4 linked regions of the Homo sapiens genome follow. The protein of the gene in region 3 interacts with the protein of the main gene of each other region in a pairwise test. Each region holds a gene or a part of one and is shown on either strand. Other genes may lie near its edges.

Region 1 (8,578 bases), on a different chromosome or scaffold from region 3:
CCGAGGTGGACAGATCACGAGGTCAGGAGATCGAGACCATCCTGGCTAACATGGTGAAACCCCGTCTCTACTAAAAATACAAAAAATTAGCCAGGCATGGTGGCAGGCACCTGTAGTTCCAGCTACTCGGGAGGCTGAGGCAGGAGAATGGCATGAACCCGGGAGGCGGAGCTTGCAGTGAGCCGAGATCGCACCACTGCACTCAGCCTGGGCAACAGAGCAAGACTCCGTCTCAAAAAAAAAAAAAAAAAAGCGGGGGGGGGGGGGGAAGGCCGGGTGCAGTGGCTAGTGTCTGTAATCCCAGCACTTTGGGAAGCCAAAGCAGGAGAATCGCTTGAACCCAGGAGTTCGAGACCAGCCAGGGCAACATAGGGAGACCCTGTCTCTACAAATAAAAAAAAAATTTGCTGGGCATGGTGGCATACACTTATGGTCTCAGCTATTCAGAAACTGAGGTAGGAGGATCGCTTGAGCCTGGGAAGTCGAGACTGCAGTGAGCTGTGACAGAGCCACCGCACTCCAGCCTGGGAGACAGAGAACCTGTCTCAAAAATAATACTAAGTGGGAAGGCTAAAATGAACCCTGTAGTGGCCGGGCATGATGGCTCACGCCTGTAATCCCAGCACTTTGAGAGGCCGAGGCGGGCGGATCACGAGGTCAGGAGATCAAGACCATCCTGGCTAACACGGTGAGACCCCATCTCTACTAAAAATATAAAAAATTAGACGAGTGTGGTGGCGGGTGCCTGTAGTCCCAGCTACTCAGGAGGCTGAGGCAGGAGAATGGCGTGAACCCGGGAAGCAGAGCTTGCAGTGAGCGGAGATGGCGCCACTGCACTCTAGCCTGGGCGACAGAGCGAGACTCCATCTCAAAAAAAGAAAAAAAAAAAAAAATTAACCCTGTAGTATTGAACTAGAATCAGAGATAACAGTATAAACTCATGGTTTTTAGGAAAGATGGATAAATGATGGATAGTGAGGAAGGATAAGACAGATACAGAAATACAGTTGTGTATATAAGCATCATTAGTATCCATACATGTATTTCCTAACTTTATTTGCTGAGAGGGCCTACAGGCAATGATAACCTACTTGCTAACAATGAGCATGCTTAGCACCCACATCTTGAAAACTGGGGCTCCTTGGAGAAGTGACTAATTTTCAGGGCTAGTGCAGGCAAAATCAATGTCATTTGGGAACATCTAAGTATTAACACTATCAAAAAGTAAGGAAAGGGTGGCTGATGCCTGTAATCCTGCACTTTGGGAGGCAGAGATGGAAGGATCACTTGAACCCAGGAGTTTGAGAAGCCTGGGCAACATTGCAAGACCCCATCTCTACAATAAATAAATGGCTCATGCCTGTAATCCCAGCACTTTGGGAGGTGAAGGTAGGCGGATCACTAGAGCCCAGGCATTGGAGACCAGTCTGGGCAACACAAGTCGGACCTTGTCTCTACAAAAAAAATAGAAAAAACTAGCTGGGCATGGTGGCGCACACTTGGAGTTCCAACTACTCAGGAGGCTGAGGCAGGCTGAGGCTTGAGCCCATGAGATCAAGGCTACAGTGAGCTGTGATCGTGCCACTGCACTCCGGCTTGGACAACAGTGAGACCGTGTCTCAAAAAAAAAAAAGGAGCTTATCAAAAGAACACAGGGGCCAACATGAAAGAGTTCCTAATGGCCAAAGCTTTGTAGTAATTTGAGCAACAAAATAATAATAGTATTAGATTACATCCTATAGAATAAAATAACCAAGAGCTCATACTGATAGGAATTATGAGTTAAATAAAGAAGTGGTAGCTCTAACACACAGAAGTCCAATAAATAAATGTAAAATAAAAAAGGAAAATAAAGAATCACCATTAGGCCAGGCGTGGTAGCTCATGCCTGTGTGTAATCCCAGCACTTTGGGAGGCCGAGGCAGGCAGATCACCTGAGGTCAGGAGTTTGAGACCAGCCTGACTACTAAAAATACAAAAATTTCTACTAAAAATACAAAAATTAGCCGGGCACGGTGGCACACGCCTGTAGTACCAGCTACTCAGGAGGCTGAGGCAGAAGAATTGCTTGAACCCAGGAGCCAGAGGTTGCAGTGAGCTGATATCGTGCCACTACACTCCAGCCTATGGCTAGGTAAACACCATAGCCATAAATGTCACAAACAAGCCTCACCAGTAGATGCTAATAGCAGGCAAAAATTTGAAGAGAAAAAGGACTTTCACAGTCTCAAAAGTACCCCGAGATACTTATAAAATACGGAGAGAAAAATACTACCTTCACGGCAGAGAAACCCACCCTACACCAACTTAACCAAGTAATCAATGTGAATATTATCATCGGTGAGGTATATCAACATCATGAATCTCATGTAATGATACATTGAGAAGAACATATCATTATTTTTGTGGTATTCTTACCAAAAATGCATAATCTCATTTCAATCATGAGAGAACACTGGACAAACTCAAACTAAGGAATATTCAATCAAATAACTAGTGAACACTCTTCAAAAGTGTCAAGATCATCAATGACAGTGAAAGTCTAAGGAAATATTACTGGTAGACTAGAACACAAGACTACAAACAAGCAACAACTAAATGCCACACAGGTTCCTGGAACACAAAACAGACACTAGTAAAAGAAAAAGTAATAAATTTCAAATAAGATCTATAGTTAACAACATCATACCAATGCTTATTTCCTGTTTTTGATAATTTTATAGTAATGTGAGCTGTTAACATTAGAAGTGGGGTGAGAGATAAAAGGAAACTTTGGGCTGGGCGCAGTGGCTCACGCCTGTAATCCCGGCACTTTGGGAGGCCGAGGCGGGCAGATCACAAGGTCAGGAGATCAAGACCATCCTGGCTAACACGGTGAAACCCCATCTCTACTGAAAAATACAAAAAAATTAGCCGGGCGTGGTGGCGGGCACCTGTAGTCCCAGCTACTCGGGAGGCTGAGGCAGGAGAATGGCATGAACCCTGGAGGCAGAGCTTGCAGTGAGCCAAGATTGCGCCACTGCACTCCAGCCTGGGCGACACAGCGAGACTCCGTCTCAAAAAAAAAAAAGAAACTTTGTGCTGTATTTGCAACTTTGCTATTGGTCTAAAATAAGTTCAAAATAAAAAATTAATATGCTGGGCATAGTGGCTCACACCTATAATCCTAACACTTTGGGAGGCTGAAGCAGGTGAATTGCTCGAGCTCAGGAATTCAAGACCAGCCTGGGAAACAAAGCAAGACCTCGTCTCTAATAAACATTTTTTAAGGCCAGGCACGGTGGCTCATGCCTGTAATCCCAGCACTTTGGGGGGCTGAGGTCAAGAGTTCAAGACCAGCCTAACCAACATGGAGGAACCCCGTTTCTACTAAAAATACAAAATTAGCTGGGCATGGTGGGTGGCACATGCCTGTAATCCCAGCTACTCAGGAGGTTGAGGCAGGAGAATCACTTGAACCCGGGAAGCATAAGTTGCAGTGAGCCAAGATCACGCCATTGCACTCCAGCCTGGGCAACAAAAGCGAGACTGTCTCAAAAAATGAAAAATTAAAAATTAGCCGGGTATAATGGTGTGCACCTGTAGTCCCAGCTACTCAGGAGGCTGAGGCATGAGGACTGCTTGAGCCCAGAAGATTGAGGCTCCAGTGAGCTATGATCTCACCACTCCCTCCAGCCAAGGCAACAGCAAGACCGTCGCAAAAATAAAATAATTTTTTTTCAGCCTGTGTCAGCAGTGAAAAATGTAAGAGATTAGGGAGGTTTTGCCCATGTTTAAGGTTTAGAAGGGGGCTCAGTACCCAGTAGAGGCCAGTGTGACATTGGCAGGAATTATTAATATTTGTGTTTGCCAAGAGGAAGATGAAATAATGAGGGAAGGTCAGGGTTGTTTGTGTCATCAGGCTTCCTGACCTAAAGAGGTTTCTAGAGCTCTTCCTATTCTAATTAGGCACGGTTTTAAGAAGACACTGCAGAGTTCTAGCCAAGCAAACATTTCAGTAGCCTCCTTCCTGCCTTCTTTTTTAAAATGCTATCCTAAGAATTACTAGTTAGTAAAATTGGTAACTCATAGGAAAAAGGAGGGACCACAGGCCCATGATACTTACTATTTAAATTCTTTGATAAGATTTTTGTGAATCTTCATGCAGAAATCCTCCACTGTGGTCCTGGAGTAAGGAAGCACCACTGGGGATGTGTAATCTGGTAACTGGCCTTTGGGTTTGGTGTAACTAGAATAGAGAGGGCATAAAGATTACTGCCTTCTTAGACTATCTCATGTGTTGAATGTATAGCAACCCTCCATCACCCCTGACATCAGACCAGGACAACCTCCAACTTAAGGGAAAAAGTGTCCTCAATATGACCTAATGACCTAGTAGATAATAGGAACCAATTTACTTATATTTTCAAAAAGAGCCAGATTTTGTTAATGAGCTCCAGAAAGTATCATTTTAGGACAGTCTGGTTAATTCCTATAGCAACATTACCCTATCCACAAAGACTTACATTCTCACTAGTTTCAGATAGTCCCAGATCTTTTCCAATAGGTCATCAAAATTCCAGCGGTGATGGGCAGAGATGGGTACACAGTGAGGCACCTTATAGATGATATCCAATTCCTCAATGGAGATTTGGTCAATCTTATTTAACACATAGATACAGGGGATATAAACTCTACAGAAAGTGAAGAAAAACAGGGTATTAGTCTGGAGTTGTTGACAGAACTGTCAGACTGTTGAACAGCACACCCTCACCCAGACCCAACTGGCGCTCCCAAGAGGGACTGTAAGTAGCAGATCAGCCAGAAAAAGAAAAAAGAAAAAGAAAAAGTGAACTATGGGTTGAAAAGTAACAGAAGTCAGGCCCTAGTACCAGCCACAAAGCTAACTGCTAGGAAAGCATACTGCAGTGGAAAGAACACAAGCTTTGAAGTGCTCAGACTGATTCTAATCCCAGCTGGCCCTCCAAATATGCAGGTTTTGCATCCCTGAATTCAACCAACTGCAGATCAAAAACCCACAGACACGGAGGGTCAGCTGTACTATACCATTTTATATAAGGGCCTTGAGCATCTGCAGGTTTCATTATCTGCAAGGGGTCCTGGAAGCAATCCTCTGTGGATATGAAGAGGTGATGTTATGTGTCCCTAGGAAAGTCACTTAACCTCTGAGTCAGTTTCCTACAAGGCTGTTTTAAAACATAATTTATACTTAAAGACTAAAAAATAAGTGTTTTATTTATTGGTACAATAAATAATATTGGTAAAACTGATATAGCATCTACCAATGTCATATTCCTAGTGTCCAATCAATATGACAGCTAAGGTTACTACTAATTAGGCAAGCCACAACTTCTCAGGTTTAACTGCCTCACTTGTAAAATGCCTAACTGAAAACACTGGCTTCTGTTTGTTTTCAAATGAGGAGTAAGTACACTCATCCAACATACAGGAACAAATGACTAGGAGAGCAACTAAAAATATTACATGCAAATGCTATGAGTAATTTTAACAGTGACTTAACTTATTAAAGTCTCAGTAATATTAATGGGCTGGGCATAGTGGCTTATGCCTATAATCCCAACACGTTGGGAGGCCAAGGCAGGCAGATTGCTTGAGCCCAGGAGTTCAAGACCAGTCTCGGCAACGTGGTGAAACAACATCTCTACAAAAAATACAAAAATTAGCCTGGCTTGGTGGCACACGCCCATAGTCCCAGCTACTCAGGAGGTTGAGGTGGGAGGATGGATTGAGCCCGGGAGTTCAAGGCTGCGGTAAGCCGTGATCACACCACTGCACTACAGCCTGGGCGACAAGAGCATGACTCTGTCTCAAAAAAAAAAAAAAAAAGTAATGTATCATGAAACAGATATTCAGCTACATACTCTTAGGATGGAGAAAACAGACACAGCCTGGCCTGCTCGGACTTCTGTAGGACACAGCCTATATAACTTCTCAGGTGGATTAATTCTGGAAGAGCAGACTGACCTACTACTTTCTTCAACTATCACATGACAAAGTTTAGGGGGCAGCTTAGTTTACAGCAAGTAACTGAAACGGAGAATTTCATAGGAAGAGGCTGTAAAAGAAAAAAACTGAAATGGGGAATATGACCATCATAATTAAATTTAAAAGCAAGGAAGGATGTCAGAAATAAAAACTAATCCCTCAGTTTACCCCTAAAGAAACCAAAGCCAGCAGGCAGGGTGACTGACGCCTGTAATCCCAGCACTTTGGGAGGCAGAGGCAGGCAGACTGCCTGAGGTTTGAGACCAGCCTGGCTAACATGGAGAAACCCCGTCTCTACTAAAAATACAAAAATTAGCTGGGTATGGTGGCGGACACCTGTAGTCCCAGCTACTTGGGAGGCTGAGGCAGGGGAATTGCTTGAACCCGGGAGGCAGAGGTTGCAGTGAGCTGAAATCGTGCCACTGCACTCCAGCCTGGGGGACAAAGCAAGACTCCAAAAAAAAAAAAAAGGGGGGGGGGGCGGGTGCCGGGCACAGCAGCTCATACCTGTAATCCCAGCACTTTGGGAGGCTGAGGTGGGTAGATCACCTGAAGTCAGGAGTTCAAGACCAGCCTGGCCAACATGAAACCCCATCTCTACTAAAAATACAAAAAATTAGCCAGATGTAGTGGCAGGCGCCTATAATCCCAGCTACTCAGGGGGCTGAGGCCGAAGAATCACTTGAACCCAGGAGGTGGAGGTTGCAGTGAGCCAAGATCGCGCCACTGTACTCCAGCCCAGGTGACAGAGTGAGACTCTTGTCTCACAAAAAAAAAAAAAAAAAAAAAAAAAGAAACCAAAGCCCCACTATCATTTAAGATAGTAACACAGGCTGGACGCAGTGGCTCATGTCTGTAATCCTAACATTCTGGCAGGCCAAGGCAGGCGGATCACTTGAGGTCAGGAGTTTGAGACCAGTCTGGCCAACATGATGAAACCCCGTCTCTACTAAAAATACAAAATTAGCTGGGCATGGTGGTGCACACCTGTAATCTCAGCTACTTGGGAGGCTGAGGCAGCAGAATCGCTTGAACCTGGGAGGCGGAGGAGGTTACAGTGAGCTGAGATCACACCATTGCACTCCAGCCTGGGTGACAGAGTAAGACTCTGTCTCAAAAAAAAAAGGCCGGGCTCACACCTGTAAACCCAGCACTTTGGGAGACCGAGGTGGGGTGGATCACCTGAGGTCAGGAGTTCGAAACCAGCCTGACCAACACGGAGAAACCCCATCTCTATTAAAAATACAAAATTAGCCAGGCGTGGCGGCACAGGCCTGTAATCCCAGCTACTCAGGAAGGCTGAGGGAGGAGAATCGCTTGAACCTGGAAGTGGAGGTTGCAGTGAGCCGAGACTGCGCCACTGCACTCCAGCCTGGCTAACAAGAGCGAAACTCTATCTCAAAAAAAAAAAAAAAAAAGAAACCAAAGCCCACTATCATTTAAGATAGTAGCACAGGCTGGACACAGTGGCTCATGCCTGTAATCCCAACATTTTGGGAGGCCGAGGCAGACGGATCACTTGAGGTCAGGAGTTCAAGACCAGCCTGGCCAACATGATGAAACCCCATCTCTACTAAAAATACAAAAATTAGCTGGGCGTGGTGGTGCGCACCTGTAATCCTAGCTACTCGGGAGGCTGAGGCAGAAGAATCTCTTGAACCTGGGAGGTGGAGCTTGCAGTGAGCTGAGATCACGCCACTGCACTCTAGCCTGGGCAACAGAGTGAGACTCCATCTCAAAAAAAAAAAAAAAAAAAAAGACAGTAGGACAACTGGAATTAAGATAAACTTCTGCCAGATTCAAGATCCAATACTGTTTCCATCACAAGGCTTCCAATTCAGTCAGGCACAGACTGCACACTCAGTCAGTACCTGTTTCCTTCCACCACATCAATGAGGTCATCAGCTGTAGCATCACTACGTAGAGTCACATCGGCATTATGAATCTTGTATTCAGCCAGAATGCTCTTCACAGTTTCAGCATCCAGCTCACTCTGGGGGCACTGAAAGGGAATAGCAGATGACTAGTCAGCACAAAATTTAAAAAAAATACTTGTCAAGTGTACCAATATCCATGTACCTGGAAAATTCTAGCTAAGATGCAAACTCATTACTAAATACATCCGGGATGAGTGTCACTGACTTTTAGTAGGAAATAAATGTCCAAACTCCAAGGAAGGTGTTACACGCTGAACTGTGTTCCTCCTTCCCCCACCAAATAATTCACATGAAGTCTTAACCTCAGTATCTCAGAATGTGATGTATTTGGAGATAGGGTCTTTAAAGCGGTAATCAAATTAGAATAAGGTCATTAGGGTGGGGCCATAATCCAATACTGGTGGTCCTAATAAGAAAAGGAGATTAGGACACAGACACACAGAGCAAACACCATATGAAGTCCCATCTGTAAGCCAAGGACAGAAGCCTCAGAAGAAATCAACCCTGCCATCAACTTCATCTCAGACTTCTAGCCTCTAGAATTATGAAAAATAAATTTCTGTTATTTAAGCCACCCATCTGTGGTACCGTATTATGGCAGCACTGAAACTAACACAGAAATAATCTTAAATGTT
Region 2 (8,409 bases), on a different chromosome or scaffold from region 3:
CAATTATTCATAGGCTATCTAGTTGGAGCTCCAAGCCCTTCATTTCCTCTTCAAGGGTAAGTAGCTTTTGGCCATCTTACTGTTGGCTATCACCTCCACCAGAAAGTGAGCTGAGGAAATAATTCCGAAACAATCATTTTATTCAATTTTGATCAACAGTTTTTAACAAACAGCTTTTGGAACTGAAAGAGATTATTAAAATCCCATAGCACAACCTTTGAAAATTATATATGAAAGAACGAAGATTCAGAGAATTCCCCAAATTAGGGACAGTTCAAAAATGTACAGTCTGTTCCTAGTTAAATGCTTTTTCCATTTTATTATTGATAACATGGGGGAAAACGAAAAGAAGTTAAATTGAAGTCAGTTATCCTTGCTAAATCTACTCCCCTCATCCTTTATTATAGATAATCAAATTTGCCAAGATCAAATCCCAGGAGCAATGATAATAAGTAGAGTACAGGTCAACAGAGAATTAAACAACTCAGCCCGAGGACTAAGCACTGAATGAACATCTATAATAAAATTTGTAAAGTTTACTTACACTAGAGATTGTCAGAGGCATGTTGAAATCCTTACCGCCCTGCAGCCGGAAACCCCAAGGAGCTGGGCCAACCAGTGACACACTGTAGTTGCTCATGGTTCTAATGGCTCAAAGTCCAATGACAGAAAATGAAATATGCTGTGAAAGAAAATCAGATGATTAGCAAAAATGTTTACTTGAAACCCTAGAACATAAATTATGTTTAGTATTTTGTTTGAGGGGGGTGAGAGGATATAGAAGATAAGTCTTAATTAAGTTCTTCATTAATTTCAGTTTAAGAAAAGCAATCTGTGAGCTAATATAAATTTTCTACACTCATGGCAATTTCCATGGTCTAAAAATTCCATATCAGAATACATTTCTAGACACTTAGTATGTTTCACAACTTGCTTCAATCCAATTTTGTGGCTTCTTGCATGCAAAGTTTAACTCAAAGTACTTTACAATACTTCACTAATGTAGCAAGATTTTATTTCAGGTTGAATTCAGAATAATTTTCTCCTTCCCTCCACTTCATGTATTCTTTTGTCTGCAATTGACAAGAGTCTTTCAACTGCACTTACTTAAATTCTAAGTTACTCTAACATGTGAAAGAGACTGCAAATCAGTAGGCTCCCATTCATGCTTTCCAAATACTAAATTCTTTACAATGAGAAGCTGTTTTTCAATGCACAAAACTATTCTCTCCAATCATGAACTACAACTTGTATTTCCTCCTATGGGGACATGGTATTTTCCACACTTAAAGTGATATCTACTTTTCCTTCAGATAGTCAACGATAGGCAATACTCTAGTACAGTGATGTTAGTCACAACCTGCTTTTTGTTTTATACACACACCTCACCAGGCAGAGAGTAAGCATTTGCCACTCAGTGAATAAGATTATGACTAAATACAGCAAAAGTGCTGGGTTAATGCATTCAAATGGAATTGGCAGTTTAGAAAAGAACCAGTGCTTCGGTGCTTTCTTTTGTCTGTTCTGCTGTTAAGTGTGCGTGTGATGACTCTCCTAGTAGTACTTTCATATAATTTTTAAAAAGCAAAAAAAAAAAAAAAAACTTCGAGTTTCCTATTGGTTGTTATAACGGCAGGAGACAGAGGAATGAAGTTTTCTTTTGTTTTAATGGAATACTAAGAAACAATAATTCTCTCTCTTTAAAAAATATTAAAAACATAACAGATATGTAATTTTATATTAAAAACATACTTCCTTGGAAAATGTAAGCTATTCAACCAAATCACCACCTAATATTACCTGTCTTAAAATATGTTTTAACCCATTCAAAATTTCTAGCCCATCACCCCAAATTCATAGTTGCAGATATAGATATTTGAGCCATAGGTATATTTAAAGCAAACATTCCTTCTTCTCATAAAGGGAAAATGGGGCAAAACATTCAAATAAGCCTGGTTTTTAAAGAAAAATTATATCAGGGAAAATAAAAATTACAGAAAATTGTATCAGAAACCGAAACAGCTTTTCTACTGGCGTGGTAGTATACTGAACTACAAGGCAATAACACATTACTTCAGTAATGAAGTAATAGGCACAGAGCACTAAAAAAGATCCAAAGGCCAAGCCGGAAGTCAAACTGTATATATAGGTGAAAAACTACTAGTGGGAAGCTAATAACGAGCCACACATAATTCAATTGCTTTCCCGCTATAAAAGGAGGAGATTTTCAGAAAACTAATAGAAGGACTGTCCTGATATTGACACGATACAAATCAGAATCGTGTAAAGCCAACTGATATTTCACAGGCAGCCTGCCCTCCTTTATTAATCTTTAACTTGTGTCTGGGGAATAATATGAAAGTTGGGCTCAACTTCCTCTGGCCCCATTCTTCCCTACAAGAAAATGTATTTCATTTAGATTATCAACCCATGTACTTGCAACTTCCCTTTACTTGGGGATTCCCTTCCTAACTTCTCTCATTTGTTATTAAAATTCCTAGCACTGGCAAGGTCACAGCCACACTACAAAACCAGTGTCATTTCATTTCTAGTCACTGTCCGTTCATTTCTAGATGCTTCTTCTGCTAGCTTCATTTGGAATTCATCTGCCTTAAAACAGTCTCTGCCCCAAGCAATGGCAATATTTTTATTGGCCTTTCCAAGACTCCTCCATCTGGTTATTAGTGCCCAAGCCCTTCCTCAAATACCAAGCAGGCAGGAAATAGCAGCATACTCTTTCAAACACGTCGAAAAGGTTGGAATTTCTGTAGAGTTATGGATTTTCTTTTAGGGAAAGTCTAAACAATGTCTTTGCTCTAGTACTAGGGAAGGAAGCTTGGTATTTCCCACACTTGTATCTCAGCTTCATTAGTGGGTGAGAGGGGAGAAAGGAGAACTCAAGATGAACTACACAGAGTGACAAAAAAAAAGGCCTGAAATTAAAGAGAAATATCTTGAGATTCTCTTTCCCCGCAATGGAGAGAGAATGTAGGTAGAGCTGAAGAACTAAAGCCACAGGCACAGGATGAAAGCAGCCGACAGGACAGTTTTCCAGGAGGGATTCGCGCCTAGCCTTGTTGGCCAAATAAGGCTACCGAACGGGCCGTTTCCGTGGCAGGCGGGTTCAGACGTCCTCCCCGTCAGGAAGGCGGACTTGGGATAGGATCTGGCGATCACACCCTAAATCTGCCCTGCCCAGCGCCGCCACGAATTTTCCTTCCAAGCTCTGCCCTGTCCACACGCCCTTCCTTTTTCCACTTATTGTAAAACGCACCGAAGGCACAGTCTTACAAAAGCCCCAACAAGTACTCAAGTGTTAACAAATCTCGTGTTCATGACAAATGTGTTTCTTAAACGAGCTTTATTTCTGGACGCGCAGAAGTTTTCCCCAAACAGGTTACACAAAACTGTAAATATCTGGGGGAGAAATAAATGCTTCTCAGTAGCCTGGGAGCAAAGAAAAACTAACGCGCCTTTTCCTTTGAGTCCCGCTTCCTACCCTCCAAGAGACTGGCGCAGGACTGGGCACTCAGACACCACACCACGGTGGTGCCGGGCGACGCCGGCAGCCGGGTGGGTGGGAGCGGCAGTGCCCGTCCCTGCCGGCCCTCGCCACCTCCGGGCGCCCTCCCGCGTCCCCGTCTCCGCTACGCTGGTCCCGGTCGGCCCGGGCTGCGGGGACCCCAGGGCTCGCCCTCTGGCCTCATGCGGACTCCAGCGCTGCCCTTTTCCGGGCGCTCCTTTTCCCAAGCTGCTCTCCCACCTCCGCCGCTCCGCGCCCAGAAAGCACCTGAGGAGCCATCCCTGCCCGAGGAGCGCCCCCTCCTCGTCCCCAACCGGGCTTCCCTTCTCGCGTTCGGCGCACAGCGGCCGGTTCTTTCCCTTCTCCCACCGGAGATCCGAGAGGCGCATCGCCGGCCGGCCGCCACTCACCTCGGGTCCGGCGCGGCGCGGGGCTGCCTCCGCCTCAGACAAGGGCTGACAAGTGACTCGCGGTGAGGGCGCCGTCCCCACCGCCCGCGGGAACTTCCGCCTCCTGGCTCTCCCTCGCCCCACCCCCGACCCAGGACACGCCCCTCCGCTCCCGGCCACGCCTCTGGGCCAGTCCCAGCCGCGCCGCGCAGGGGCGGGGAAGGTGGCGGCGGCGCCGGGCGCTCGGGCTTGCTGGGGCTGGCTGAAGCAGCTGCGGAAAGACAACTGCGCTACCGAGTTTCGGTGGGAGTAGTCTTAGCGGATTTTGAGCGCTACCTGGCAAAGGTCTAACCCTCCGCTCGTCCGTTTTGTAGTGGGTGCATTTTTCTCTCCAGAAATTTAAATTGGCAAGCAGTTGCTCTGCCTAAAAATAGAAGGGTACTTTGGATAAATCTCTATCTATGCAAGTTCAGCGGTTACTGCCTGCGTTTTTTTTTTTGAAAGAGCTTTACATGCTCTGAAAAGTGCAGACCCAGAAGTTTACCTGTCAGGAAGGTGAAAACCAGTAACCCTAACAGAAGTTAACCCTGTCCATCACACCAGAAGACAGTGATACATAAAAGCGGCCAAAAGTGATTCAACCACTGTATCTTCAGTTTATTTTTCTAAATCCAAATCAATAGTCCACTTTCCAGCCTTCTATAGGGTTGCTTGATACGCCCGAGGAATTTATTCATAAGAAAACGTGAATAATGTTCACTGAACATACGGAAAGTAACTAGACTGTTACACTGTGAATTGGCTTATAAAACGTGAAAAGGACAATTCTTAACCAAGGAGCATATAAAGCAAGGATGAACTTCATGAGGTCCGTGAGCTCCCCGGCCCCCAGAAGTGCAAGCAAAATTCCAAAGGCGAAGATCCAAAGCTGCTCTTTCCCTAACGGTAGCCACTGGCCACATGTGGCTATCGAACAGTTGAAATGTGGCTACTGTAACTGAGACCATGAATTTTTTGTTTTACGTAATTTTAAATAATTTAACATTTAAAACTGAAGCAGGATAACATTTCTTTACTTTTTTTTTCTTTGAGACGGATTCTTGCTCTGTCTCCCAGGCTGGGATCAGTGGTGCAATCTCGGCTCACTGCAACCTCCACCTCCCGGGTTCAAGCGATTCCCCTGCCTCAGCCTCCTGAGTAGCTGGGATTACAGGCGTGCGCCACCACGCCCGGCTAATTTTTTGTATTTTTAGTAGAGATGGGGTTTCACCATGTTGGCCAGCCTGATCTCGAACTCCTGACCTCAGGTGACCAACCCGCCTCGGCCCCGCAAAGTGCTGGGATTACGGGCATGAGCCACCGCGCCAGGTCGTTAACATTTCTTTTAAGCACTACATTTAAGGACTAAAGTTGAAAATATAATGCCCAAATTGAAATGCGTTGGAAGTGTAAAATGCACACTGGATTTCGACGACTTGGTATGAAAAAATAATGTAAAATGCCTCAATAATTTTTATATTGATTATATGCTGAAATCATCATATTTTATGTTTTGTTAAATGATACATGATTATGGCCGGGCGCGACGGCTCACGCCTATAATCCCAGCACTTTGGGAGGCTGAAGCGGGTGGGTCACCTGAGGTCAGTAGTTCAAGATCAGCCTGGCCAACATGGCGAAACCCCGTCTCTACTAAAAATACAAAAATTAGCCGGGTGTGGTGGCGCATGCCTGTTATCCCAGCTACTTGGGAGGCTGAGGCAGGAGAATCACTTGAACCCGGGAGGTAGAGGTTGCAGTGAGCCGAGACCATGCCACTGCCCTCCAGCCTGGGCGACAGAGCAAGACTCCGCACCAAAAAAAAAAGAGTAATAATAATAATATTTGATTAAAATTAATTTCACTTTTTAAAAAAAATGTGGCCACTAGATAATTTAAAATTACTTACGTGAGCAGGGTGCAGTGGCTGACACCTATAATCCTAGCACTTGGGAGGCTGAGGTGAGAAGATGGCTTGAGGGCAGGAGTTTGAGGTTAACCTAGGCAACATAGCAAGACCCATCTCTAAAAAAATCCAAAAAATTAGCTGGGCGTCGTGTAGTGTGCCTGTAGTCCCAGGTCCCAGCTATTTGTATTGCTGAGCCCAGAAGTTCGAGGCTGCAGTGAACTATGATCTTGTCTTTGCACTCCAGCCTGGGTGACAAAGGAAGACCCTGTTTCTAAAAAAATAAATAAATAAAATTACATATGTGCTTCACATTATATTTTCATTGGACAGCACCAGTCCATAGCTTTCACCACATTTTTCAAAAGATGGCTTTGGGGGAAAGTGTTTCCTAGTGTGAAAGCTGGTTTAGAGAGTCTAATATATGTTATCATGTTTGACATCTCACCCAAAAATAAAAAAAAAATAACAATAGCTACCATTAGCAAATACCTACCATGTGCTATGCAGTGTGGTAGTCCTTACAAGAACTTTATAAAATGAATGTCATCCTCATTTATAGATAATAGGTCGCAAGCAATTACAGCTTCTGCCAGTTCCACAGGGCCATGGCTCGAGTTAACCTCTAGGAGTCCCAACTCTGCCCCTTCTCATCTGTTTGCTGTTGATACAGTTAAATTGATCCTGGATCAACAAAGATTAATTTAAAGACATCAACTGCAGATAGCCTATGGAGTTATCACTAGAGGATAAGCTTCTTGAGGTGATGAGGAAGAGTTGAGAATGGGCAGACTGTTGCTTACTTATGCAAATTCCACTTTACCCCATAATTGCTAGCCTGTCTCTGAACCTCCTCCTACTACTGCAGTTTAAATCCTGGGCTACAGAGTAAATTAACCAAATTAAGTTGTCTTGCATAGACTGATATTTATCCAAGTGTCCTAAAAAGGACCGATTGCATCAAAATGACACGGATAGCTTGTTAAAATTGCATTTTCCTGGATCCCCTCTGGACTCAGAATCCTTGTAGGTGAGCCCTTGGAATCTTTTTAACAAACACTCCCTCCCCACCTCCAGGTAATTATTAAACTGCAGTGCTTAAAAACTACTTCCCTAGAGATAGTGCTATGTCTCCGGTTTAATGTGCACTGTGCTCAGTTAAGAACCATGCATTCCAGATGGTAGCAACTTATCTGTTTCCTCATCTTAAAGGAAATGATCATTGTAAATAACCTTGTGAGATTATCATGAGGAATAGAGATAATATATATAAAACATTACACAGCATGCTTCGCACCAAGTAAGGATTAAATAAATGGTAGCCATATGAAAACTTTCCTAACCAATTGATTAGATTTATTTGTGTATCATAAAAAACAAGTAGAGAACTTTGACTTTCATTATCCAAGTACTATGTTCTTGGTGCCCTATGTACATTATTCTACTTAATTCTTACAACCATATAAAGTAGACTTTTTTCAGAGGAAGAAATAGAAACTTGGAGATTAAGACATTTAACCTAGGGCACACGCCCACAGCTAATCAGTGATGGTAGTAGAGCAAAAGGTCTGATTCCAAAAACCATGTTACTTTCATCGCAACACACTGTCTCTTGGTAAATTCAGTAAGCCATCCAGACCAAAGACCTGAGGAAGATGGAATGCTTTCGAAACTAACACTGCTGAGGGCCATAGAGGTGTAAGCCATAGCAAATTATGGAAATAAAATAACTGCTGAGTAATTTGTATATGAGGGAAGATGAAACTCCTGAGCCACTTCAGGAGGACATATGCCTTAACTTGTTTTATAATGAATTGCCACGGGGCCATTCTGACTCCCCTTGTCTGTTTCCCTCATCACTAACATTTATGAAATGGTTGGCCATGGTCTGAAGGACAGCCTGTGACTACAGACGATCAGAAGTTACTGGTCCATTGGGAAATCAAACCAATGTCCTTGGCCTCATTAACTCTATAGGGCTAAGTAATGAGGCACTGACCACAAAGGAAAACATATTAAAAGCTTCATTTTATCATAATCAGGGAAAGAAAAGCTGGGTTGGGGGGTGGGGGAGAAAGAGATCAAAAGATTAACTTACTTAGCAGGAAGAGTTTTTAAGAATAGTCCCTCTAAACACAGTATTTACCTAAGCATATAAATGTTTTCTCTAACATTTTATTATCCAATCTATGACTCAGAACCTCTTGTAGCACTTCAAAAATAACAGAAACTTAATTACAACATGACATGGCTGTGACAAGTTTTTACAGTTGCACCCAATAAACTATGAAGTGCCAGTCTTTTAAAAGTTCCTATATTACTGAGTCAATTTATCTTTTAAGTCCTAATCCTGGAAGGTAAATAAACCACTCATGAGCATTTAAATTTTAAAATCTAGAATGGAAAAGAAGCATTAACTATTCTAATAACTAAAGAAACATTTGGTAATTTAGGGAGAAAAGATAGAAGGCACAGTGTCATTCTAAAGTTTACTAAAGAATCCTGGGAGAAGGGCAGAACTAAATCAGGCATGGAGAGAGTGGAAAGGAATA
Region 3 (6,711 bases):
TGGTCCCCCTAAATTGACTTCATAATCCTTCTTGGGGACTCTATTCATAGTCTGACAAACACAACAGAGGAAAGGAGTGACTCATAAACTGATAATAATCTGAGAAAAACACACCCTGAGGTCAAAATTTTCCTTTGGTCAATGTTCACTAGTTATCTTAATTTGTTTTCCAAACCCTGGAAGGCAACTGTGCTACACAGAACCCCAGTGCCAAGATCCCACCGTTCACATTACTCTCATCCTTTCGGGAGTAATACTTCTCATTACAAATCAATAAATGCACATTTTGAAACACATTCATGTCATGCAAAGTAAAACTGGCCAGCATCTCCACTGGCACAGTGGCTCCCAGATCAGATGAACTCCACTGAACCAAACTTTGCAACATCAGACTCATCAGTCAAAGCAAACCTTCTTATTACAGAAAATTGTAATCTCTCACGTTATTGTAAAATAAGACAATAATTTGCAATACTCAACATGATAACTCGGTAGAGATGTTTAGTTCAATATGATTTTATTTAAAAATGTGTACAGCTGAAGGAGGGATCTGATCTTTTGTTAAATGAAACCAATTTTCACGGTATATATTTGGCCATTTTAGCTTCGTAGTGAATAATAACAGAAAAGGAAGTTTCTGTTCAAGATCCTCACTCCAGCACACTCAGCCAGGTGCCTGGCAAGATGACACATTTCCTGGTCTGAAGCTCACAGCCAATCCTCTCACTGAAGTGAAACACCAATTCTCCAGGCATACACACACATACGCACATCTTATTTTCACTGCTCTACACAGGGACCTGAGAATCCTTAATTTTAAAGTTGGGAAAAACGTGAAAGGATTCCTTAACTCATTGTCTGCGACAAATCCAACTACCTGTTAACTCTTAACAATTGCAAGTATAAAATACTTGAAATTTACAAGATGCTCCATTTAATGGAACAACTCAAATGCTAAAAAATTAGGTCAAATAACATGCTTTAATATTTTTAAATGTTACTTAAAACTTATTGAGACAAGATACGCAGCACATTCTTGGTATTATAAACTCCTACTGACGACTGCTACTTGATGGCCAAAAACATTTAAAGAAAGAGAAGAAACCATACTGGTATACAACAATATCTGCAGGGAATGTCATGTTTTACATTTTGTTAACTGAAATTAAACCTGACAAAAAAACCAAAGATCTACAAAACCGACACCCATGTCATTTTAAATGATGAGGTAGATTGTTTCCTATGCAGTAAAGTGAAGATAACAAAAAAATCCATACAACTTCCAAATCCTCTTTAAAAAAAAAAAAAAGTTTGGGTTATAGTCACTTTCACAAACAAGACATTCATAAACTATAAGGTGGAGAGGTCATACTCAGGCAGGTTCTGTACTTGATGTGTTACTTGGAGATTCAATAATCAGTCTTGGGTCAATCAACTCTTTCCAAAATACAGTGATCTGAGGAAAAAGACAAAATACCCAGTTTAGGCACTTCATTTTGAGGTCATACCGGTTAATTCAGCCACGTAAATTTTCCGTCTGTGTAGAATGATTGAAGAACGGGAATAATTTGGGTTCCAATAAACTGAGTTCAATTGCAGTATAGTAACTCTTTAGGCCAGGCGCTGTGGCTCACACCTGTAATCCCAGCAATTTGGAAGGCCGAGGGGGAGAAATGCTTGAGCCCAGGAGTTCAAGATCAGCCTGGGAAACCTAGTGAGACCCCATCTCTATTATTTTTTTTAATTAAAAAACAAAACAAAAAAAAAGAGGCCAGGCATGGTAGCTCACGCCTATAATCCTAGCACTCTGGGAGGCCAAGGCAGTCGGATCATCTAAAGTCAGGAGTTCAAGACCAGCCTGGCCAACCTGTGTCTCTGCAAAAATACAAAAATTAGCCGGGCATGGTGACGCATGCCTGTAGTCCCAGCTACTCGGAAGGCTGAGTCAGGAGAATCGCTTGAACCCAGTAGGTGGAGGTTGCAGTGAGCGGAGATCGCGCCACTGCACTCCAGCCTGGGTGACAGAGTGAAACTCTGTGCTGGGAAAATAAATAAATAAATAAATAAATAACTCATTTACTTAGAATGAAGCTAAATTTTACATTAAACATATTTCATCTTTCTTTGATTAAGAGCAGGAGATGCAGGGGTTGCGGGAGGGAGTAGCTCCCCCAACCCCTGCATTTGATTTGCCCTGTGGACAGGTGGCCTGGAGACCTTCTGGCAACTAGACATGGTCCAGATGGGTATCATTAGGCTGCTGATGCCCTTTTGCGCCGCTCTGTAGTTCTTATCCTACACTACCTAAAAACAGGAACTATTTCACAGCCCACCAAGAGAAAAACTCTAAGGCTTGGTCCTATGAATGAATAATGAGGGCCATCTAGTGTCAAAAAAGGTAATTACAGGCTTTTTGTTTTTGAGATAGGGTATCACGTCTATAGTCCAGGCTGGAATGCAGTGGCATTCAGGACTCACTGCACCTTCCACCTCCTGGGCTCAAGCGATCCTCCTGCCTCGCCCCCACCACCCCCAAAGGTGGCTGGGACTACAGGCATGTGTCACCACTCCCGGTTAATTTTTGTATTTTTTTGTAGAGACGGGGTCTCGCCATGTTGCCCAGGCTGGTCTTGAACTCCTGGACTCAAGGGATCGGCCCGCCTCAGCCTCCCAAAGTGCTGTGATTACAGGCATGAGCCACGGTGCCCAGCCTAATTACAGGCTTTCTATTCTACTTCAAGTCTCTGTTTAGGGCATAGAGAGAAAAGCCTCCAAGGTTTAATTTTCCAATGCGGTTTCCAATTTCAACCAAAAAAAACTATTGCAAATAAAGAAATACAGGAGACCAGGCCAAATCTGCTGATCCTACCACAAACACTAAAAATGTGTTTCTGGAATAAATCCCTAAAAGTGTCATCTACCTTAAAGACAAGGTAAAACACAGTCTGGCTAGGGTTTCTACAAGTTCACACTTCAGAAAAAATATGTTTGCAATATTGAAACTTACAGAATAATATCTATAACATTTCAAGTATAAACACCTTAAAAGAGAGCATTTTCTTAAATCTAACTTCCATTTAATGCCACCATAACCTAATGAGCTAGCCACTGCCAGCAACTCTGGTAGGTCTGGCTGCTTAAAAAGGTATAAATCGGCCGGGCGCGGTGGCTCACACGTGTAATCCTAGCACTTTGGGAGGCCGAGGCGTGCAGATCACGAGGTCAGGAGATTGAGACCATCGTGGCCAACGCGGGGAAACCCTGTCTCTAGTTAAAAAAATACAAAAAATTAGCCAGGCGTGGTGGCAGGCGCCTGTAATCCCAGCTACTCGGGAGGCTGAGGCAAGAGAATGGTGTGAACCCGGGAGGCGGAGCTTGCAGTGAGCGGAGATCACGCCACTGCACTCCAGCCTGGGTGACAGAGCTAGACTCTGTCTCAAAAAAAAAAAAAAAAAAAAAAGGTATAAACCATATACTTCCCAAAATGGCAATTTAAGGATTTAAAGAAAGTCAGAGGATGAGATCATCATTTTATGTCACTCTTCAAACTGTTGTGCTATTATAAGTTGGAACTCTCGGGCCAGGCATGGTGGCTCACCCAGGCACGGTGGCCTGTAATCCAACACTTTGGGAGGCCTAAGTGGGCAGATCACTTGAGGTCAGCAGTTCAAGACCAGCCTGGCCAACATGGTAAAACCCCGTCTCTACCAAAAATATAAAAATTAGCTGGGTGAGGTGGCAAGCGCCTGTAATTCTAGCTACTCCAGAGGCTGAGGCATGAGAATCGCTCGAACCTGAGAGGTGGAGGTTGCAGTGAGCCAAGATCATGCCACTGCATTTCAGCCTGGGCAACACAGTGAGACTCTCTCAAAAAAACAAAAGTTGGAACTGTGGTAACACTTGGGGGATAGTGGTGACAGCAAGGGGACATAATAGAGGCTTCTGGGAGTGGGTGTTATGTTCTATTTCCTGATCTGGGTCTGGTTACATGGGTATGTTCATGTGAAAGTTGTTCAAGCCATGTAGTTATATGCACTTCTCTGAACGTGTATGCCAATAAAGTTTCTAAATATGCTACCCTTTCCTACTGGAATCCTTATATAGCTATAATTTTAAACAACTGTACACTCTTAAAGAAAAGTTTGTTATTTGTGCATCTTGTCACATAGGCTCTATGAGGGCCAAGATGGCGCCCTGATTTGGCACTGGTATTGCCACACCATAAGAAGGTCAGATTCCCCCCAGGGCCTGTAGTGCAATGTCACCTTCCAAACCACAGGTAATTGGTCAAGAGAGAACGAATGGCCAAGCAACGCAAGAAGAGAAGCACACCTACCTTGCTCTCCTGTGTCACAGCGTACTCCACTACCTCGGCTCCATTTTCATTGTGATAAACTAAATCAAATTTCCCAGGTTCTCTCAAGGCTGAAACAAGAAGATAGGGAGGAAAGAGAGTAAGTCATTTTTCAATAGTTAAAAATGTTCCTCTATGGGGAATTTATATCATTAAGAAAACAACCACAAACAAACTGTCAATTAATGTGAAGGCTGGGTATGTACAGGAAAGCACAGGGTGCTCAATACTGGGGGATCCTGAGAAAAACTCTGGACCAGGGGGACTTCTCAGCCATTTATCAGAGAAAATCTTTCCTTCATAAGCTTGATGAACTGTCATTAGTACTACCAGAATTGAATATGGCACCACAAGATAATCCCCAAAATTAATTAATTTATGTGTTTCAACAAGGGAAGGTAATATGAAATGCTGCTCTGTCCTTAGAAATCACATATGCTTCCTACTACTTGGTAACACAGGCAGTCCCCCTTTTTTTTTTAAGACAGAGTCCTGCTTTATCGCCCAGGCTGTAGTGTAGTGGCGCAATCTCGACTCACTACAACCTCTACCTCCTGGGTTCAAGTGATTCTTGTGCCTCAGCCTCCTGAGTAGCTGGGATTACAGGCATGCACCACTATGCCCAGCTAATTTTTGTATTTTTAGTTGAGACAGGGTTTCACCATGTTGGCCAGGTTGGTCTCAAACTTCTGGCCTCAAGTGATCTGCCCGCCTCGGCCTCCCAAAGCGCTGGGATTACAGGCGTGAGCCACCACACCCGGCCTCAGTCCTTGCTTTCTATGGTAAAATGGGATTGGAAAAATGACTGTGCAAGCTGAAACCACGCAAAACAATCTTAATAATCAATAGGAAAAATTATTATCGTCTTACGAGTTTTAAAAAATTTTGCCAAAACATTAAAAACCTTTACTACATAGGGAAATTAAAAAATAGTAAAATAAATATATTGTACTTATGAGTACACTGTAATTACATTAGGAACACTAAGAACTAACTTTCTTTTTCTCTTTCCTTCTACACGTTTTATTTCTTTGTAAGAAACTTATCAGGGGGAGTTTGAACAGTGCTTGTGTTCTTGCCCTGTAACTTACAATACAGAGCAAGCATCTTCTCTATGCTTTGTGCAACTGTTATACTCTTTTCTAAGTTTGAAACTGCTTTCTACATTTTATCCTTTGAACTTCTAATGTCGTGAAATAGCTCAAAGAATTTGTTTTTTACTTTGTAAAATCTTTGTTTTTGCTGGTGTCACTTTGGGGACATTTTCATCCTTTTTGCCACAACCACTTTCCTCATTTATGTCAATAAGTTCACCTCACTGGCAGTGTCAACATTCCTACAGTGAGCTATTTCTTCTACAGACTCTCCTTAAACTCAGTTTGGATGGCACTTTCAGCATTACCACTTTTGTTTCTTTGCTGTGCCTTTATCTTTGTGGGCCAATTCCCTACTTCGATTATACGTGTTGTAAAATGTCATGCAGGTTTATAAGTGAGAGACAAGGAGGCACCACAACTGCATGCTCTGCTCTGTATGTGAACTGAATAACAGATGCACAGTGACCAGTCACTGACGGACTCTGAAAGTACTGACTTGACTGGTAATGGATCATGACGCGTATCTGTTATTTATGTTATATAGTGATATGTGGACTAAAGAGCTAGCAGTACTTCATGCACTTACAGTTAACATATGCAATGTTGCTGGGGGACTAGTATTACTTAACTAAACCAGGGTAACTGAAATATATGTATATCAGAACCACCACATCAAGGACAAGTGACATTGCTATTAGAGAACAGATAAATCCATTTCTTTCTTTCTTTTTTGCTTTTGAGACAGGGTCTTGCTCACTCAGCCTGGAGTGCAGTGACGCAATCATGACTCACTGCAGCCTCGACCTCCTGGGCTCAAGTGATCCTCCCACCTCAGCCTCTCAAGTAGCGAGGACTACAAGCATGTACCACCACACTCAGCTATGTTTTGTTTTTTTTTTTTACGACAGAGTCTCACTATGCTGCCCAGGCTGGTCTTGAACTCCTGGGCTCAAGTGATCCTCCCACCTTCGCCCCCGAAGCCATTTCTTGATGCCCTAAAGAAGAAAAGTTCTAAGTGGATGTCATCACTATTAATCACCTGACAAGCACTGATCAGGCTGTATGCACAGAATTTGACAGTGGACAAACTTTTCTGTCCACCGTTCCTAAGAAAGGGGATTTCTATAAATGAAATCTCATCAGAAGAAAGGTTGGAAACCTGGCCAGGCACGGTGGCTCATGCCTGTAATCCCAGCACTTTGGGAGGCTGAGGTGGGAGGATCACGAGGTCAGGAGATCGAGACCGTCCTGGCTAACACA
Region 4 (8,578 bases), about 25 Mb from region 3:
TCCTCAGAGCCCCAGAAGGAAAGAGTGTGGAGCCGAAAAAATTACTTGAAAAATAATGAATGAAAACTTCTGAAATTTGGTGAAAGACATAAACCTTCAGATCAATATCAAAAAGAATAAACCAAAGAAATCTATGCCCAGATACAACATAATGAAATTTCTGAAAACTAAAGACAAAAATTCTTTTTTTTTTTTTTGAGATGGATTTTTGCTCTTGTAGCCCAGGCTGGAGTGCAGTGGCGCGATGTCGGCTCACTGCAACCTCCACCTCCCGGGTTCAAGCGATTCTCCTGCCTCAGCCTCCCAAATAGCTGGGATCACAGGTGTCCACCACCATGCCCAGCTAATTTTTGTATTTTTAGTAGAAATGGGGTTTCTCCACTTTGGCCAGGCTGGTCTTGAACTCCTGGCCTCAAGTGATCCACCCGCCTCAGCTTCCCAAAGTGCTGGGATTGCAGGCACCCGCAACCACACCCGGCCAATTTTTGCATTTTTAATAGGGGTTTCACCATGTTGGTCAGGCTAGTCTTGAACTCCTGACCTCAAGTGATCCACCCACCTCGGCCTCCCAAAGTGCTGGGATTACAGGTGTGCGCCACCGTGCCCAGCTAATTTTTGTATTTTTAGTAGATACGGGGTTTCGCCATGTTGGCCAGGCTGGCCTTCAACTACTGACCTCAGGTGATCCACCTGCCTTGGCCTCCCAAAGTGCTGGGATGACAGGCATGAGCCACGGCGCCCGGCCTGTCAACGTAATTTTAAGAGTTAAGTGTGAAAGAATGTCTATCATATTCATCCTTGCCATTAGTTTTCCTTCACTCCTGACATTCCTAGTTTCCTTCCTTCTGTTGTGTCTAAAGTACCTCCTTTATCAGTTCTTTTAGATCCAGTCTGCTGGTGACAAACTTTTCCTTCATCTGAGAATGTCTTTATTCACTCTCATTCCTGAAGAATATTTTTACTGAATGTATAATTATGGGTTGACAGTTTTTTGCTTTCAGTACTTGAAAAATATTATGCCACTTCCTTCTGAGGAGAAATCTGATGACAGCTGCTGCTGAGAACCCACTACCGCTCCAGTCACTGTCCCCTGTGGGCTGTGCATCGCTCTCTCTGTGTGCTTTCAACAGTTTTTGTCTTTAGGCCGGGCGCAGTGGCTCACGCCTGTAATTCCAGCACTTTGGGAGGCCAGCGCAAGTGGATCACCTGAGGCCAGAAGTTCGAGACCAGCCTGGCCAACATGGTGAAACCCTGTCTCTACTAACAATACAAACGCCACCAGCTGGGCATGGTGGCACATGCCTGTAACCCTAGCTACTTTGGAGGCTGAGGCATGAGAATCGCTCGAACCCAGGAGGCAGAGGTTGCAGTGAGCCGAGATTGTGCCACTGCACTCCAGCCTGGGCAACAGAGACTCCGTCTCAAAAAACAAGAAATTCATTTCAAATATAAAAGAGAGAGGTAGGTAAAAAGAAAAAGGGATGAAAAAGTTATACCACGCGAATGCTAATCAAAAGAAAGCCCGAGTGGATTAATTAATATCAGACAAGGTAGACTTCAGAACAAAGAATGTTGCCAGACAAAGAGGAAGATTACGTAACAATATAAGGGTCAATTATCCTAAAAAAAAAAAACCCTAAATGTATACACATCTAACAACAAAGATACAAAATATATGAAACAAAAACAAAGAATCGTGATTTAAAAAATAAAGATCTATATTAAAACAGGAATAGAAAGAAACTTCCTTAACCTCCCTCCACTACCCCCACCACAAAAAACCTTCAGCAAAAACTCAACCTAAAAAAGTGAAATGCTGAAAGTTCTTCCTCTGGGATTAGGGAGAAAGACAGCTATTATCAACATCATACCGGAGAGTTTAGCTAGGGGCGATAATGCAAGAAGAAGTAAACAATATCAGCATTGGAAAAGAAAAATAAAACCTCCCTTATTTTATTTTACTTTATTTTTTTTGAGATGGAGTCTCGCTCTGTTACCTAGGCTGGAGTGTAGTGGTGCAATCTCGGCTCACTGCAACCTCCGCCTCCTGGGTTCAAGTGATTCTCCTGCCTCAGCCTCCCAAGTGGCTGGGATTACAGGTGCCTGCCACCACGCCCAGCTAATTTTTTTGTATTTTTAGTAGAGACGGGGTTTCACCATGTTGGCCAGGCTGGTCTCAAACTCCCGACCTCAGGTGATCCACCCACCTCGGCCTCCCAAAGTGCTGGGATTACAGGCGTGAGCCACTGCGCCCGGCAAAAACCTCCCCTATTTGAGACAATCTGTGCCAGTGGAGTGTCCTGTCTGGCCCCTCCCTTTCTTTTCCTGCCTTAGGCCTGCAGATGGGGCCTGCCTCCCCTACACTAAGGGGGGCTGTGGCTCCAGCAGGGTGAAGGCATCTGTGTGGAAGGCAGCCAGGCTGGGCTGTCAAGCTCGGTGATGCTGGGGAGGCATCCAGGCAGGAGAGGGGCCTGCAAATAGGGGAAGGGGCCACAGCAGCAATGGGGGATTGGTTACACCAAGAGGACTCGATCAAAGTAACTGTGTTAGTGATAATGGGCGAGCCAGGTTTCTCATTATTGGGAAAGGAAGTTAGAATAATGAAAAAGAAAGCTAGAATGCTAGAATGAACCTTTTGATGTTGGACTAACCACAATGGAATAGATTAGCCTATGAGTTTGTCTTGAAATTAAGACCTTCCATTCACCAAAGACACCAGTGAAGGAATAAAAGGCAAGCCATAGACTGGGAGAAGATATTTGCAACACATATAACCAACGCTAGGCTCATATTCAGCATAAAATACCCTAAAAAAATCTATGACAAAGGGCAGATGATCCAATAAACAATGGGCAAAAGACATGGCCTGGAGCTCCAAAAGAGGGGCTGTCGAAAGGCCAATTCTATGGACTGAGCTCTGCCCCCCAAAATTTACGGGTTGAAGCTCTCACCCCGAACATGACTGTATTTGGAGACAGCGCCTCTGAGGAGGCAGCTAAGGTTACATGAGGTCCTAAGGCTGGGGCCCTGGACTGTTGTCCTTACAAGAAGAGGAAGAGTCGGGCGCGGTGTCTCACGCCTGTCATCCCAGCACTTTGGGAGGCTCAGGTAGGCAGATCACGAGGTCAGGAGTTCGGGACCAGCCTGACCAACGTGGTGAAACCTCATCTCTACTAAAAATACAAAAATTAGCCGGGCGTGGTGGCATGCACCTGTAATCCCAGCTACTCAGGAGGCTGAGGCAGGAGAATCGCTTGAACTTGGGAGGCAGAGGCTGCAATGAGCCAAAATCATGCCACTGCACTCCACCCTGGGCAACAGAGCAAGACTCTGTCCCAAAAAAAAAAAAAAAAAAGAGGAAGAGACACCAGGAGTGAGCATGCAGCGGGGGAGGAGTCACGTGAGCACGCAGGGGGAGAGTCCACATGAGCACGCAGGGGAGAGGGTGCCGTCTGCAAGCCACAGAGAGGCCTCAGGAGGAACCCACCCTGCCGGCAACCTGATCTCTGACATCCAGACTCCAGAAGTGAGAAAATAAAACCGTTGTTTAAGCCACTCAGGCTGTGGTGTTGAGTTACGGCAGCCCTAGCCAATCATACGCCAATGCACACAGGAAGAGATGTTCAATCCCACGAATCTCATGAATTTGCAAATTAAACCAAAATAGGATGTGCTACGTGTCCACTAGAGGGAACAGAAGGAGCCGCTGACCACGTAAGTGTTGGCGCGCATGCAGCACCACGGCTACCTCGCACGATGTGGATGGATGCTTTGGAGAAGAATCTGGCATTATCAAGTGAAACACAGTGTAGGTCTGAAGACGCCAGACAGAAGCACAGGTGCCACAGAATTCCATTCACACCAAAACAGGGAGCGCTGACTGCAGTGAGCAGCCAGGGCACGTGGGCTCCGGAGGGAGCACAAGGAATTCCATTCACACCAAAACAGGGAGCGCTGACTGCAGTGAGGAGCCAGGGCACGTGGGCTCCGGAGGGAGCACAAGGAATTCCATTCACACCAAAACAGGGAGCGCTGACTGCAGTGAGGAGCCAGGGCACGTGGGCTCCGGAGGGAGCGCGAGGAATTCCATTCACACCAAAACAGGGAGCGCTGACTGCAGTGAGGAGCCAGGGCACGTGGGCTCTGGAGGTAGCTCCAGGAATTCCATTCACACCAAAACAGGGAGGGCTGACTGCAGTGAGGAGCCAGGGCACGTGGGCTCTGGAGGGAGCACAAGGAATTCCATTCACACCAAAACAGGGAACGCTGACTGCAGTGAGGAGCCAGGGCACGTGGGCTCCGGAGGGAGCACAAGGAATTCCATTCACACCAAAACAGGGAACGCTGACTGCAGTGAGGAGCCAGGGCACGTGGGCTCTGGAGGGAGCACAAGGGGCTGCTGGGCTGGATGACGCCGCCCCAACGTCTGCAGTAGCCTTGAGCTGTATATTTGCTATGAGCGGACTTTTGCAGGGGTCAGATTTCAGTTTATAAGGGGACAGCAAGTACCCCACTGAGACGCGGACTTACCAGTCGTCTCTGTCGAGGTGCGGACGCTGGGCTGAGACTCAGCATGAGGTGAGGACATCTTTAAAGGATCCAACACATCTTCTAGATGCTTTTCCAGAGTTTTAAACTTATGCTTTAGAGTTCGTATTTCTGCTTCAAGGGCCAGAACATAATCTGCCAAAAAAACCTCCAGTGAATATAACACATACACAGCATCCTTTCGCACCTCCCTCCTGTGAGCACCAGCTCAGGGAGCCGATGCCAGCTCATGCCCGCCAGCTTCACTGTCCCTGTCCTCCTCACACTACAGCTTCACCGTAGTTTCCACACTCTCTGTGTGTGTCAGACTGAAAGACCTTCCCTCCCCTCACTGGCCAGAGTGTGCCAGCCAGAGACCAGCACAGTCTCCATGCTCTCCAGGAAGGGCTCAGTGATCAGGAGCAAATGCTCCACCTGCCGCCAGCCCACGTGCCTCTGTGCAGAGGGGCCAAGTCCCATCTCGAGAACGGAAGCTCTGCCTCCATCCCGGCATCTGCCCACCCACAGCCACTCATGGGGTCCCTGGGGGTCGGGAGGCCCTCATCAGCTCTGCCACAGACGCTCCTCTGGAGGAAAGGACTGAGGTCCACCAGCCCCTGCTACCAACCCATTCTGGGACAGCGCGACAGCAAGCCAGCCCTGGTCCAGGTCTAAAACAGGTTTTTAAGTGTGTCAAGCAGGTACCCTCATTTTTTCCTTCCACTTTACAAATATAAAAGCTTTTTGGTATAAAACTTAAGATCCCTTCTCTTGGAGAAAAAGCAGTTTTCATACTTTGAGTTTATTACAGGGGATGTTAACTTATAGGACTCTGAAATGAAGCCTCCTTGAAGCCAGTCAAGACCCATGCTCCCGTCTGTCCTCCTCCCTCCCTCTCCCCCTTCCTCTCCCGCTCTGTCCGTTTCTCCCACTTACTCACCAGGAGTGGCGGCATCTCCCCCAGCCTCTGGGTCAGGCTGGTTTGCATCTGTGCTCTCTGCCGCTGTCTGGATGGGAGGAGGAATCTGATGGCTTAGAGCCTCCATTTCTTTCCTCATCTGGGCAATCGCGTTTCGCAAGCTCGTGTTCTGCTCTCGGAGCCGCTGGATCTCACTGGATGGAAAGTCTTTACTTATTTCTTCTTCATGCTGCCTGAGAAGCATCTGTCAAATACAAGGAAAAATGGCTACAAAAAGATGAATGGTTCCCCAGCTTGTCCTGACAGGCTGTGCCTCCGCTCTCCCCGCGCCCCTCTCGGGCCGGTCCCCCGCTTCAGCTTGGGCTGTGGTCCCTCCCCATCCCCAGGCTGTGATGCCCCTCCTTTCTGACAGAAGTGCAAATATGACACTCAAATTCCTGGAGCCTTTCATACTTTTGAGATCCCTAGAGTGTCCAATCCACAGAGGCAGAAAGTGGAATGGGGGTGCTGGGGCTGTGGGCGGGGAGGGGGAGCCAGTGTTTCTTGGGGACAGAGCTTCAGTATGGAAAGATGAGAATGTTCTGGAGAGGGTGGTGTGATGGCTGCACCTCCGTGTGAATGCGCTTCATGCTGCTGAACTGTGTGCACCAAAAAATAGTTAAAGCAGCCAGTTTTGCGTTATGTATACTTTAGTACAATCAAACATCCACTAAATAGGATGAAGAGCAGGTTCAGAGCGCGCAGAAGAAAAGGCAGTGAATATAAACACCTGGCAACAGAAAATACCCAAACTGAAGCTCAGAAGGAAAGGTGCCAAAGAAGAAAAAATGAGCAGAGCTCTGGAGACCATGAACAAGGTGCACAAGGAACCAGGAGCCCAGATGAACGCAAAGACAGGAGACGCGTCTACAACAAGGCCAGACATGTTACAAATGTGCTGAAAGCCACACATCACAGATGACGAAGCAAATGAGCTGAAAGCCGACATCACAGATGACGAAGCTCAGTGAACCCTAAGCAGGATAAACAGAAAGAAAATCATACCAAACAGCACATAATCAAGCTGCTGAAAAATCAGCAACAAAATGGAAACTCTAAAAGCAACCCGAGAAAAGAGACATGTTACCCTAGGGTCAAAGGGCAGGCATAGGGATGACAGACCCCGCAAGGAGCCACCAAGGCGGGAGGACAACGAGGTGAGGTGGCTCCGGTGCAGGAGGAGAGACAGGCCCCGCCCACCCAGTTCCTAGGGAGAGGGAGTGTCCTTCTCTAACCAAAGGTGAGGGGCGCTTCTGCCTCTGACCAGGAGGGACTCACTGCCATGAGTCTTTCCCTGCGGCTGTGAACAACTAGAACACCAGACACATTAGAGGAAACACCTGCTTCCAGACGCCAGCATAGACCCCAGATACGGGAGAGGGAAACAAAGTCCCAGGGTCTGGCCCAACTCAACCTTGAGTCCAGCCAAGATGTGTGCAAAAGGCACAGCTTCCTCTCCTGTGGAGCCACCCTGAGGGACGCAGAGCCTGCTCCCTACTCTGCACTCCATGAACACAAACCTGAAGCAAGATCTGGGCCCTTCCCAGGACGCTCTGACTGCCCGCTGGCTCCTCCGTGCTCCCTGGCAAGGCCAGCTGGCCTGGGCTCCCAGGAGGAGAGCTTCACACGCTGCGCTCAGGGGTGGAGAGGATGCGAACAGAACCTGCACCTCAACTGGCAGTTTAGAAACGGAGACAGTGCGATGCCTAACCCTGTTTTTACTCTAACTCGCTACTTTAAATTTTGCCCTGTTTGTCTCTTTAATCACCTAGCCTTGTTTCTCATGTAAATAAGACTCTCTCTAGCTGGGAAAGCCGGACAAACTCCAACTGACCCCTTAATTTACAAGACACTAAGGGCTCCTTACCCAACCCCCTTCCGCAAGGAGTTGACCTGTGTAAGCAGATCCTCAGCATTTCAAAGGAGCCCAATTAACTGATAAGGTACTGGCACCAACAACGTCTGAAGTTCCCAGGATTCTTCTCAAAGAGATAACAACATAAAGCCTTGAGTTCGTGTCCGGCATAGCATCTATGTCTAACTATAATGAAGGATTTAGAGCCCTGCACCTGGTACCGTTGCTTTTTGTAACCATTTGTCTTTTAAATTGTTTATCGCTCTGTAACCATTTGCTTCTTTTGATTCTTGCATGTTTTTACTTCTGTAGAATTATTGCCTTTGAGTTCCCCTCCCCTTCCTAAACCAAGGTATACAAGTTAATCAAGCCCCTTCCTCAGGGCCGAGAGAATTTTGAGCGTTAGCCGTCTCTTTGGCTGCCGGCTTAAATAAAGGACTCAATTCGTTTCAGAGTGTGGCGTCTTCTCTAACTCGCCTGGGTACAACAACAGGAAACTGCCCACCGCAGTGCCGTGATCACAATGGCGAACAACATGAAGGACCATTGGTAAGAAAATCGCTAGGTGCGTTATGGTGTGGCCGCTTGATAAAACATGCAGCCATTTAGATTCTGTTCGTGAAGAATTGTAATGGCGTGGGAAAATATTTATGGTAGAACCAAAAGGAAGAAAGAATTCTCCTGGAGAAACAGTCGCATGAGGGGTAGACCCTGGAAGGCCGTGCTCCACCTGGCCAGTTACAGAGCGGGATACCGAGTGCCCAGAGGCTTACCAGGCTATGTCCCAGGACGCGCTGAGGGTGCTGGCTGCCTGGCCTCACTGGCTGAGCAGGCCCACCACAGCGGCAAGCAAGGCTCAGAGGGCTCGGCAGTGTGAAAGGAAAATATCACTAAGCTAAAGGGAGAAGTCAAGCTGGGAACTGCTCAGGGCAAACCTGCCTCCCATTCTATTCAAAGTCACCCTTTGCTCACTGAGATGAATGCGTATCTCACTGCCTCCTTTGGAGAGGCTCATCAGAAATTCAAAAGAATGCAACCATCTGTCTCTTACCTACCTATGACCCGGAAGCCTCCTCCCCACTTGGAGTTGTCCCGCCTCTGCAGATGGAACCACTGTTCATCTTACATATGTTGATTGATGTCTCCTGTCTCCCTACAATGTGTAAAACCGAGGTGTGCTCTGACCACCTCGGAACACGTCGTCAGGACCTCCTGAGGCTGTGTCACCGGTGCGCATC

What was found.
Region 1: the proteins of COIL (region 3) and DRG1 interact in binary tests that used the Homo sapiens proteins (3 or more experiments, as listed by UniProt).
Region 2: the proteins of COIL (region 3) and PDLIM5 interact in binary tests that used the Homo sapiens proteins (3 or more experiments, as listed by UniProt).
Region 4: the proteins of COIL (region 3) and CCDC57 interact in binary tests that used the Homo sapiens proteins (3 or more experiments, as listed by UniProt).

What each region holds. Positions count from the first base shown.
Region 1 is NC_000022.11:31,422,710-31,431,287, reverse strand, and holds part of DRG1 (developmentally-regulated GTP-binding protein 1), read right to left. Parts: intron 8,009-8,578; coding exon 7,878-8,008; intron 4,674-7,877; coding exon 4,506-4,673; intron 4,229-4,505; coding exon 4,106-4,228; intron 1-4,105. UniProt on the Homo sapiens protein: Catalyzes the conversion of GTP to GDP through hydrolysis of the gamma-phosphate bond in GTP. Appears to have an intrinsic GTPase activity that is stimulated by ZC3H15/DFRP1 binding likely by increasing the affinity for the potassium ions.
Region 2 is NC_000004.12:94,447,520-94,455,928, reverse strand, and holds the start of PDLIM5 (PDZ and LIM domain protein 5), read right to left. Parts: upstream 3,988-8,409; 5' UTR 3,934-3,987; intron 683-3,933; 5' UTR 641-682; coding exon 545-640; intron 111-544; exon of another isoform or gene 1-110. UniProt on the Homo sapiens protein: May play an important role in the heart development by scaffolding PKC to the Z-disk region. May play a role in the regulation of cardiomyocyte expansion. Isoforms lacking the LIM domains may negatively modulate the scaffolding activity of isoform 1.
Region 3 is NC_000017.11:56,937,699-56,944,409, forward strand, and holds the end of COIL (coilin), read right to left. Parts: intron 4,426-6,711; coding exon 4,337-4,425; intron 1,457-4,336; coding exon 1,373-1,456; 3' UTR 501-1,372; downstream 1-500. UniProt on the Homo sapiens protein: Component of nuclear coiled bodies, also known as Cajal bodies or CBs, which are involved in the modification and assembly of nucleoplasmic snRNPs.
Region 4 is NC_000017.11:82,167,171-82,175,748, forward strand, and holds part of CCDC57 (coiled-coil domain-containing protein 57), read right to left. Parts: coding exon of another isoform or gene 8,564-8,578; exon of another isoform or gene 8,521-8,563; coding exon of another isoform or gene 8,494-8,520; exon of another isoform or gene 8,396-8,493; intron 5,691-8,395; coding exon 5,468-5,690; intron 4,684-5,467; coding exon 4,531-4,683; intron 1-4,530. UniProt on the Homo sapiens protein: Pleiotropic regulator of centriole duplication, mitosis, and ciliogenesis. Critical interface between centrosome and microtubule-mediated cellular processes. Centriole duplication protein required for recruitment of CEP63, CEP152, and PLK4 to the centrosome.